Regions from separate parts of the Homo sapiens genome. Here region 1 is linked to region 2. The links come from fine-mapping of genetic effects on gene expression. A gene starts in region 2. The other region holds a variant in brackets. All regions are shown on one strand. Distances are from middle to middle. Region 1 has its middle 58 kb from the start of SLC40A1. Region 2 holds the start of SLC40A1 (solute carrier family 40 member 1).

Region 1 (5,385 bases), 59 kb after region 2:
GGGAGCGTTGGTTAATTGACAAGATGAAAGGCTTATGATTCTAGAGAAAAAGCAGGAAGTTGGCACGAGGTTGATATAATGAAGGTAGAGTTGTACCTTTTAATAAGGTCCAAGGTTCTTTCATTCAATGAGTGGCCACTGTGGGATGGAGTAGGAGGTCAGGATGATCAACTAGATAGAACTTGTGTGGTAGGGAATAGAAGAATGGTTCTCAACGCTGACTGCACATCAGAACCACCTGGAGAGTTTTAAAGCCTATCAAGGCCCAGGTCCCACAGGCCAATTCAATCAGAATCTGGAGGTGGGGCTAGGCATTGGCAGGTGTGAAAAATCACCGAGTGATTCTTGTATGCAGCCAGAATTGAGGACTCTGGATTTGAACAACTGTTTGCACCTGCAGAAGTTTTTATACTCTTGCTGCTCTATCAGGCCTTATTACCCTTTACCAATTAAATCAGACGATTTGGGGGTAAGATTTTGGCTCTCTGTCCCCATCCAAATCTCATCTCGAATTGTAATCTCCCTGTGTCAAGGGAGGAACCTGGTGGGAGGTGATTGGATCATGGGGGCGGTTTCCCTCATGCTGTTCTTGTGCAAGTTCTCATTAGATCTGAGGGTTTAAAGGTTGAGGCTTCCCCTACTTGCTTGGCGTTCTTTCTCCTGATGCCTAGAAGGTGTCTGCTTCCCTTTCATCTTCTGCCATGATTGTGAGTTTCCTGAGGCCTCCCCAGCCATGCAGATCTGTGAGTGAATTAAACCTCTTTTGTTTATAAATTACCCAATCTGAGGTAGTATCTTTATGGTAGTGTGAACATGGGCTAATATAGTAAGATCTAGGCAAAAGCCATTTAAAAAATTCCCCAGGTGTTTCCAACCTGCAACCAAGTTTAGGAACCACTGGGTTAGAGGGATTGTATCCTGTGATCTACTATGTACCATGAATAAAATGAAATTATATTGTATGATAGCCCTTGTATATTAAAATAATACTTTGTTTTGAAGTTTAATGCACAGAAAGGAATCCAGATGCTACTCTTTGTCTTAGTTTTGTTTTTTGTTTTTTTTTTTTGAGATGGAGTCTCACTCTGTCTCCCAGGATGGAGTGCAGGGGCACGATCTCGGCTCACTGCAACCTCGGCCTCCAGGGTTCAAGTGATTCTCCTGAGTAGGTGGGGTTACAGGCGCCCACCACCATGCTCGGTTAATTTTTGTATTTTTAGTAGAGACGGGGTTTCTCCATGTTGGCCAGGCTGGTCTCCAACTCCTGACCTCAAGTGATCCACCCACGTCGGCCTCCCAAAGTGCTAGGATTACAGGCGTGAGCCACTACACCTGGCCTGTTTGTCTTACTTCTGATGGTTTAGTGCACCCTTCTAATTTAAGAAAATGAGAATGACAGAATTTTGAAAAATGGAGGAGGCCTTAGAGAAGAAGTCACGACCTCTTTTTTTACATATGAGAAATAAGGGGCCCAGAAAGGATAATTTAATTGTCCACAATTTCTTGGGTGGTTAATAACAGAATAGGGTCCCCTGACAGATCATTTTCAATTTTCTTTCTACTCCTCAATGCTGGCTTCATTACAACTCTTAGTTTTGAAGTGATAAACTTTAAAAGGGATATGACTTCATTTATAAAATCTATGGAGTACATGGACAGGGTGAATGTGAACTTGTCCATAAAACTCTAGAACACTAGAAGTAAAAGTTGCCCTCAAAGCCATGAAAAAGTTTATTTTAAAACAAGTAAATTAAACTACTAAAGTATCCCTTAATACCAAACATGGCATTTAAATTAGTGACCATGAGAATCTTTCAAGCCAAAAGAATGGCCACTGGGTAGCCATTCTATGTACGTAGGAAGGCTAAAAGTTTTGGGGTCTTCAGACCTGGGAAAATATGTGAGTTTCATAAGGTCACATGCTAGACTATAAAAGGAAATTTTGCAATCAGTACTTAAGCTCTTAATCATGTGGCTCACATGTTTTCATACTCCCTGAGTTGGTTAGTCCAATTCCTGACCTAGCCAACCTAGAAGAAAACAGAACAAAAGCAGGTCTCTATTGGGAATAAAGTTAACTGCGTATGATTATATTCTGCTTGTTAAATATGCACACTTCCTTGTGTATTCATGGACTTTGGTCGCAGTAAATGATCTTTGCAAAAAATGTCCTGGACACATCCTACTTACACTGAATGACATTCTTTGAGAGGCAGGTTGCTAGTTGCCAACTACAGTGCTTTGTTTCCAGCTGTTTCCCAGCCCATATCTTTCCATTGGCTGTGTTGAAAAGACTAGA[G/A]CATGCTGATGAAGCCTAAAAGCAACTCCAAGGAGGGGAAGTGAATAGATTAGATCATAGAACTTGATTTAGAAAGGTTTCCGTGGGCTGAAATGGGCAGCAAAATCTAAGCAGATGCAATTCCGTGGAGAGAGAAGAGAGGTATAAGTACTTGAACACAGTACATCAGTAAAGGGGGGGAACACACTTGCCTTATGGTATTTGAAGGGCTGTTATTAAAAGAGAGTTTCTAAGTCCAAAGTCCATAGACCATTCATAGGCCTTCAGAACACTGCAATTCCGCAAAGATTGTACAAGTTTTTATTCATGTCTAAATTTTTTTTTCCTGGAGATAAGGTCTGTCATTTTTATTAAATGCTCAAAATAAGAAAAATCAGATTAAACCTAAAAGTTATTAACTAGGGAAAATAAAAGGCAGCTACAGATAGATTTAGTTTCAATGAGAGGAAGAAATTTCTGACATTTAAAGTTGTCCAAACATGGAATGAGCTACCATGGGAGGTTTCAAATTTCCAGGCCATTTGGCAAGAATATCATAGAAGGTATTTAAGCAACAGTGAGTGGTGAAATGTGTTTACATTTCTATAAAACAAACAACTGTGTACATGGAGAGAATGCCTCAGTAAAATTAATGTGAATGCTGGTAGAGTTAGGAATTCTCAGAGCACTGAGGCCCTGAACCAAAAGACCACAAGTGATGACAAGAATTGTGGCTAGTTGGGGGATTGGGGGTACATTTGCCTCCTTTGGGCTGATCCTGGTTATTGATAATTAGACAAAAAGACACCCTAGTGGTTTCATTTTGTCTTTGCACTGTTGGAGGACTTGCTCTACACCTGGGTCATTTATGGTTATCTAATAGATACAGCACCCACAAACAGTTACAATGGGGAAGTTGGTAGAAAAATCAAGGGTGAGAGTATAGTGGTTAAGACCATGGACTGGGGAGATAGGCTGGCTGAATTTCACTCCTGCCTCTTTTTACTAGCTGCGTGTGACCTCGAAGAGGCTGTATAGCCACTCTGTGCTTCATTTCCCCAGATGTGAAATGAGAATGACAGTAGTACCTACATTATAGATTGGAAAATAAATACAAAAAATCATGTAAAGAATTAAAAACCATGCTCAAGAATGGTTAGCTATATGACTGTTGTGGTTTCTAGTTATTGAATGGAGATATTTGAATTATATTACAAACTGTCATTTATTTGCTGTATGATGTAGGGAAAATGCCTTATCTCTCTGGCTTCATGCTTCCCATCTATAAAATGGTGAACACATTTACGCTGGATGGAGATAATATCCAATTTAGTACTGGCTTTAACAACTAAAAGAGTCAAAGTACCCCTAAAGGTCTTACTTAGAAAGCAGAGTTTAACAATGATTTTTATAAGTTTAGGCTTATAGCAGCACATTAATTCTTAGTTTGGGAGCAGTGCTTTAGCTTAGATTTTGAAATCATCAGCAAAGTGTACTATCTGCACTATCATCAAGTTTTGTCAGAGCCTCACCCATGTTTTAAATCTGCTGTCTCTAGAACTCTACCCAAAACTTTTTATTAGAACGTCTTGAGGTATATTTTGTATCTGAAGATTTCAAGGGCTTCACAGTAATTCCTGAGTTGGCCCCTATCTAGAGCTGCGATTCCCAGATCTAGAGAGTTCTGCCTCCCAAGCAGTGGGAGCCTTGGACACCTCCTATCTGATGACTGATCCTCCTCTGCTTGAATCTTTTGGAAAAGAGAGCACTTGCCAGTTGACTAGGGAGTTCATCACACTTTATAGTCTATTTAAAGTTTTCTTTTCTTTTCTTTTTCTTTTTTTTCTTTTTTTTTTTTTTTTTGAGACAATCTCGCTCTTGTCCCCCAGGCTGGAGTGCAATGGTGTGATCTCGGCTCACTGCAACCTCCGCCTCCTGGGTTCAAGCGTTCTCCTGCCTTGGCCTCCCGAGTAGCTGGGATTACAGGGGTCTGCTACCACACCCAGCTAATTTTTGTATTTTTAGTAGAGATGGGGTTTCACCATGTTGGCCAGGCTGGTCTTGAACTCCTGACCTCAGGTGATCTGCCCACCTCGGCCTCCCAAAGTGTTGGGATTAGGCCTGAGCCACTGCGCCCGGCCTATTTAAAGTTTTCTTTTCATCTTAAAATGCATTGTATATATGTACTTAATGTGTAAGAATGTATAAGTCATTAGTTAATAACTGATGCAGCTTCACATTAAGCGCTTTGCTTTTAAATTTAACTTCAAATGCTAAATTAGTAGCATGGGCAAACACACATCAATAAAGTCTATTGGTTTGGACTCTGCTATTTTGAAGTTCGTCATAATTGGCTAGACTGCTGTGTACATTTGCTAAATAAGTTGTCATCTTTATAACACAGATTAATAGCATGCCTAAACATTTAAGAGGCTTAGAAAGAACTGCTTTTAAGGACCTTGAAGTACTGTATAAACAACTACTGAAATGCTAATTATAATTTAGTCTTATCTATTTATCACATTTTTTTCTTGAGAGGAGCCAGAGACTGAAGAGGTTGACATGGTCAACCTTCAAATCTGGGTTCCTGGCATTCCTTGAAAAGAATGATTTTATCAGGTACTTATCTCCTGGCCAGGCTTTTGGGTTTTCGTTTTTTTGTTTTTCTCATCTGCCTGTCCTGCTTGAGCTGCCATTTTAATTTATTATTCATGCAAAGTATTTGAGAGCTAGTCCATGCTGATATGCAGATGTCAGATTTTCTTCAGGCCATTCAACTTCCTTGGTGTGTTTGGGAAATCTGCCTTCTATTTGTTGTGTTGGGTTAAAAGTAAAATAATCAGGAAGGAGACAGCCCTTCATGAGGCTTTCCTTCATTACTAGGAAACATCTCTGGGACAGCCCTGTCAAGCCACTGCAGCCTGATGCTCTTAAAGAACTCACTCACAGTCCTGAAGCTCCCCTGCTTCTTGCTCGGCCCGCATCGCGGACCCTCTGCTCCCTCTGCTGTATGTGACTTTCCTCCTCAGAAGGGCGCCACAGTTTAAAATTTTGTTCTTTGAACATTTCCTTTCCCTAAGTTAAAAAATGATTAAAAGACAAATTTT
Region 2 (5,385 bases):
TCCAACTAGAAACTGTAGACTACTGTGTATATGTGTGTGTGTGTGTGTGTGTGTGTGTGTGTGTGTATGAGAGAGAGGAAGCAAGAGAGCACCCCCAATGAGAGCCAGCATTCATAAGAAACTTCGCAAGGTCAAATCTATTTGAAATGTTCAAACAAAATGAAGACCTGGGAGGATATTTATCTTTCAATAGGATGTCTGTAATTTAAAGTAGATGTTGAACTTAAACTTCTCAAGAGCCATTCATTCATATTATAGAAATATAAAACCGTTCTTGAAATTTGCCTGTAACACTGAGAAAGATTTTTGAATGGAAACGTGGCTTTATAGCTCCTAAGTTAATGTAAAAAGGTTCACATCCAACAGAAGCACAGTCCTGGATTGGAGCCCTTCCTGTAATAGTTGGTGATAACCCTATTACTTTTTTTCTTCAGAGCAGTGGAATAGTGACCATTCTTTATTCTGCCTTTGTCCTGGTGAGCACATCTGATATGGCAGAGGAAACTGAGGATGCCTGGCCGGTAAGTGAAAAGACAACTTAAAAATGAAATGATAAAACCGTTTTTATTTCCCAACTATAAACACTTTAAATGAATTTTAAATAGCCATATACATTTTATTCTGGCTGGGATTTTTAAAAAGGTGGTTAACCTAGTTACAAACTTTAAAACATGTTGAAAATGAATTGGCACATGGTCTTTAGGGTATCTACTATTTTTTGTAAACTGACTTAAAACTTGCATGACTTTCTTAGTTAGATTAAATTGATGGGAATGTTGTATGTTCTGTGTTCTCAAAAACATATATATGACTTTTGGAAGAAATCTTAATTTTCAACTGGTCAAATGTTTTCTCAGAAGGAGGAAGAGCCCGAAGGGTCTTGTGATTAAAGCGGTGCTTTGTAACCTAGCATGTCAAAGCCAAAAGAATTCTGTCATTTTGCACTTTCTGAATAGTTTGAGGATTTTTATTCTATTTTCATTTTCAATTTCTTTCCATTTCATAAGCCCCAACTAACATATCTCAACTATTCTCATTAATTAGGATTTAAGATTCCCCTTCCACAGCTCACTCACTGGTTTTAATGTCATGAACCTTGCTTGTTTTCTTTCCAAAGTATCTTTCCTACTTGCTTCACTGCAGTATCCCATTTGTTCTTTATAACATTCTCTCGGTTTTGGCTTCTGGGGACTCCTTGGTGACAATGGAGAACAGAGACTCCATATCACATTTTGAGGTATATGCTGACTTAGCCACTCTTTCCACAAATACTTCTTAAACAGTGTCTACGGGAAGTAATTTTTTTTTTAACCAACCGAACTTTTAAAAAGCCACCTGGAAGTTGGGGACAGCATGACACCCCTTCTTATAATATGTAATAATTAATGTAAAGCACTTGGAGGTCCTTGTTGCTGAGACACACTCTGACAAATGTGCAAACTATCACTATCCTTTGTGCCTTGTTGAGGACCTGTCAAAAAATTCATCTCTAATAAGGGATCGCCATAAAGTGGAGGGGTTTATTTACCAGTTCACTCCTTCACTTTAGTTCACTCATCTGAGTATACTTTGGTTTATTCTCAAGGATGCATGTATAAATGACCCTATTCTCCACGGTTAGCAAACCAAAACCTCTCTAAATTGGGAGAAAGAACTTGAATGTCGTGTGAAAGAAAGGAAAAAAGAGGGCTTGAAAAGGCAAAAAGCAGTGAAAAGCAGTAGTTAAACTGTAACCCCTATCTCTACTCACCAGACCACATCCCAACCGAATCCAGCTGCACCCACCCCGTAGACCTTTGGGGCTCCTGATTGAGAGTGCAGATACAGGGCACATACTCATGCGTGGCTCCCTTCACTACTGGGTGTCAGTCTGGCCTGTGCTCAAGGTGTGGCATCTGGTTGGAGTTTCAATATGTAGGATCCACTACCAGGGTTTTCGTGAGATTAAGAAGGGTAAGGTAACCTACTGGCAAAAGGGGCTGGTATGCCCCAGGGGTTGGTTTGGCACAGCAGGATTAAAACGAAGTCAACCAAGGCTAGAGTCTGGTGTTCTTTAGTCATTCACCTCACCCTCCAGGAGGCCACCGAATGGCTTTATCTGGACAGGGACAGATCCAGGGACACAACTGGGATAACCGGTATTCCTGGTAAGCCTGTCACTGGGGCATTTGGAGGTTAGGTGGGGAAGGGACGCGCGCGTGGGGGCGGGGTGAGAGGGTACAGAGGGAGAAGGAATGATGGTGAAGGGTTTGCTGGGGCTGCAGCATCCTCATTCTGTCTCCAGGACGGATTTGGAGGCCCCAGTTTGGGGATACGGGTAGGTCTGTAACTCGCTGCGGGACTTCACCTTTGCAAGCCTCCGTTTGCTCCTCTCAAGAGGGATGGACTCTGATCTTTGCGCCCCCTTCCTGCCCTTTGATTCTGGTTCTTTGAGGGAAGCCCTGCTATGCAGTCCGGGGAAGGAAAGGCATTCTCTGCTGCAGGCGGGCCGGAATGGGACGGCCAGGAAAGCGGCCTCTGTGGCATGAATTATATTTATTTAGATACCTGTATTAAAAATTATTTTCGTTAAAAAAGGAATCCCCACCCACCAAGCTCGCGCTGGAGCTTTGCACTGCGACCGTCCGGCGGCCGCCCTTTCCCTGAACTGCGGGGTAGCCGGTGCGCAGCGCTTTCTTCCAGCACCTGACGCTTAGTTTCGCGCAGAATCTCCCTACGCCGCCCCGCCGGCTCCACGCGCCTTCCTCCTTTTCCCAGCCCCACGGCCGCCCCCCGAGGTTGCCCTCGCGGCTTCCCGGAGAGCAGGAAAACCCGGGGAGTGGAACGCGTCGAGGCGAAGGTCCCCGCAAGCCGCGCAGGGTGTCTGCGGCCGGTTGGACGCTTGCGCCCGGGGTGGGCGACTCCTCCGGGCAAGGGCGCGGGGACGGCCCGGCGCGCAAGGTTGACGGGAGCTCGTCTCGCGCCGCGGGGACGCCCGGGCGGCCCTGAAGGGGACGGGGCGGCCCCAGTCGGAGGTCGCAGGGAGCTCCGCCCCCGACTCGGTATAAGAGCTGGGCCCGGCCCACGGCGGCGGCGGCGGCGGCGGAGAGAGCTGGCTCAGGGCGTCCGCTAGGCTCGGACGACCTGCTGAGCCTCCCAAACCGCTTCCATAAGGCTTTGCCTTTCCAACTTCAGCTACAGTGTTAGCTAAGTTTGGAAAGAAGGAAAAAAGAAAATCCCTGGGCCCCTTTTCTTTTGTTCTTTGCCAAAGTCGTCGTTGTAGTCTTTTTGCCCAAGGCTGTTGTGTTTTTAGAGGTGCTATCTCCAGTTCCTTGCACTCCTGTTAACAAGCACCTCAGCGAGAGCAGCAGCAGCGATAGCAGCCGCAGAAGAGCCAGCGGGGTCGCCTAGTGTCATGACCAGGGCGGGAGATCACAACCGCCAGAGAGGATGCTGTGGTGAGTGTCGTTGACCGAAAGCATATGGTGGAAACCCAGGTGGGGCTTTGGAGACAAGCAACTCTACACGAGTTCTGGAGGAATGTGGCTCTGCTGTGAACCATAGCTTTGTAAAAAGATCCTTTGACTCATATTTGGTGGACGTTAAGGAAGAAAGGAAATTCAGGGTGTGGGAAAAGGGGTTTGCACACAGGCACGGATGGAGTAGATTGGGCAGTTTGGATTGCCTTGTGTAAAAAAGAAACAAAACAAACAAACCAACCAACCCAAAAAAGAATGCTGAAACAAGAGTTTCTTCACTGTATGTGAAATGTGAAGTTGGGCAGTTATTGACTAGGTCAATAACTGAATTTAGTGAATGGTATTAAGTGAACGAAATACATCGGTTCATAGGTAACTTGATAAAATGTACGTGGTTTGTCCTGCAAAGTAGTTTTTAATAATCATGTTCTAATGAGATCAAATGGATAAGCATTCTGCCCTCAGCTCATTAAGTGACTACCATCGCTTTTTGTCACCCCGCCTGTGTCTTTGCAGGATCCTTGGCCGACTACCTGACCTCTGCAAAATTCCTTCTCTACCTTGGTCATTCTCTCTCTACTTGGGTAAGTGAGAATGCATAGTCTTACAACACAGTTGCGCAATTTTTTATTTCCTTTCGTTCTAGCCAGTTGTATTAAGCCAACTTCCAGTTTTGTCAAGCAGTTAAAGAAATAAATCATCCAAGTACACATGCTTTAATGAAAACGTTATTTACATCGAAGATCTTTCCCCATGAGTGTTAGTTAATGCAACTTAATTATCAGATCATCGTAGTTTATGTAGATAGACAACTATCCAGACAAGATTATCAAGGAAAGGAATATTTGCCTTGTTTTTAAATTTTATGTTGCATTAGTAGCTTTGGTAAATAGACATATCTGCTACAAAAGATGGATGGATGTCTCATATACCTTCTCTTCTTCACATTTTAAAATATTTTGTTTTCTTTTTTTGTTAAAATTTAGTTCCAGCGTGCAGCACCATGAGAATACAATAGAATGGTAGAGTGACTGACTTAAGCTAATAATAACATTCTAAGATTAATTGAAACATAAATGACCCCCAGAACAAATATCTGAGTGACAAAAATTCTGGTCTTTAAAAATGTTATCTATAGTTAGATAAAGTTTGGGGCAGTGGAGGCTATCTTAAAATTAATCATCCAATGAATATCAGCAATGGATTTACAGTTTTCCCTCTGACTTTCTAGGTTGTCCTGGAAAAGACCTAGTGTTTCTGTAGATCTGGGCTCCTAAAACTCTCTCCGAAAAATAATAAACTAGAAGGGTGCTAGATATATGTTCAGTGATGATTAGAATCTTTAACATTAAACAATTATTGTTTAAAAGCAATAAATCTGGCTATATTCTGTCCATGGCTCATATGTATTTAAAAAGAATGGAAAGAATTTTGAGAGTAAATTTTTTGAATGTTATTTTCCTTTTAAATTGGAAACTTATATTGGATCATCCTTAAGACATGGATGGAAACCACTGGAAGAGGAAATCTATACCCAATACCTTTGAGAAATTGTTAAGCTACATTATTGGTTCTCTAAGAAATAGCAGTTTATAGATGACATTTTAGAAAAGCAAGCTCCTATCTTACCAGAGGCTTACACAGGGGTGACTCTGCAAATACATGTAAACAAAGTGGAATTGGTGTGAGTTTGTTTTAATTCCAACAGCTGATGATGCTAAGTAGAAACCTAGTGAAACAACCCTTAATAAATAAAAAGCAATAGTTTGTTCCCCCAGTTTAATTCAGTAAATATTAAGTATTAATAACATGTGATGGGAATAGTATCTGAAATTCTCAGCCTGTGGTCTGGCCTTGCTCTTAGAGGAAGAAGATGCCTCTCTTCCAAGTTCTGATTATGGTTTATGTGACCTTTGGTTAATAGGTT

What was found. PIP is the estimated chance that this variant, and not a neighbour inherited with it, causes the effect.
Region 1: its variant is the best candidate, but not a certain one, in a credible set for the expression of SLC40A1 in lung (TOPMed, PIP 0.69).

What each region holds. Positions count from the first base shown.
Region 1 is chr2:189,519,676-189,525,060 of GRCh38, reverse strand. No RefSeq gene overlaps it. Among named protein-coding and RNA genes, the nearest start is that of SLC40A1, 58 kb to the left of the region's middle. The variant G/A (reference allele first, on the strand shown) is at 2,300.
Region 2 is chr2:189,578,470-189,583,854 of GRCh38, reverse strand. It overlaps SLC40A1 (solute carrier family 40 member 1), which reads left to right and starts at 3,069. Exons shown (of 8, transcript NM_014585.6): 1 at 3,069-3,437; 2 at 3,975-4,042. The coding sequence starts at 3,395. RefSeq lists silencers at 2,816-2,985, 3,056-3,115.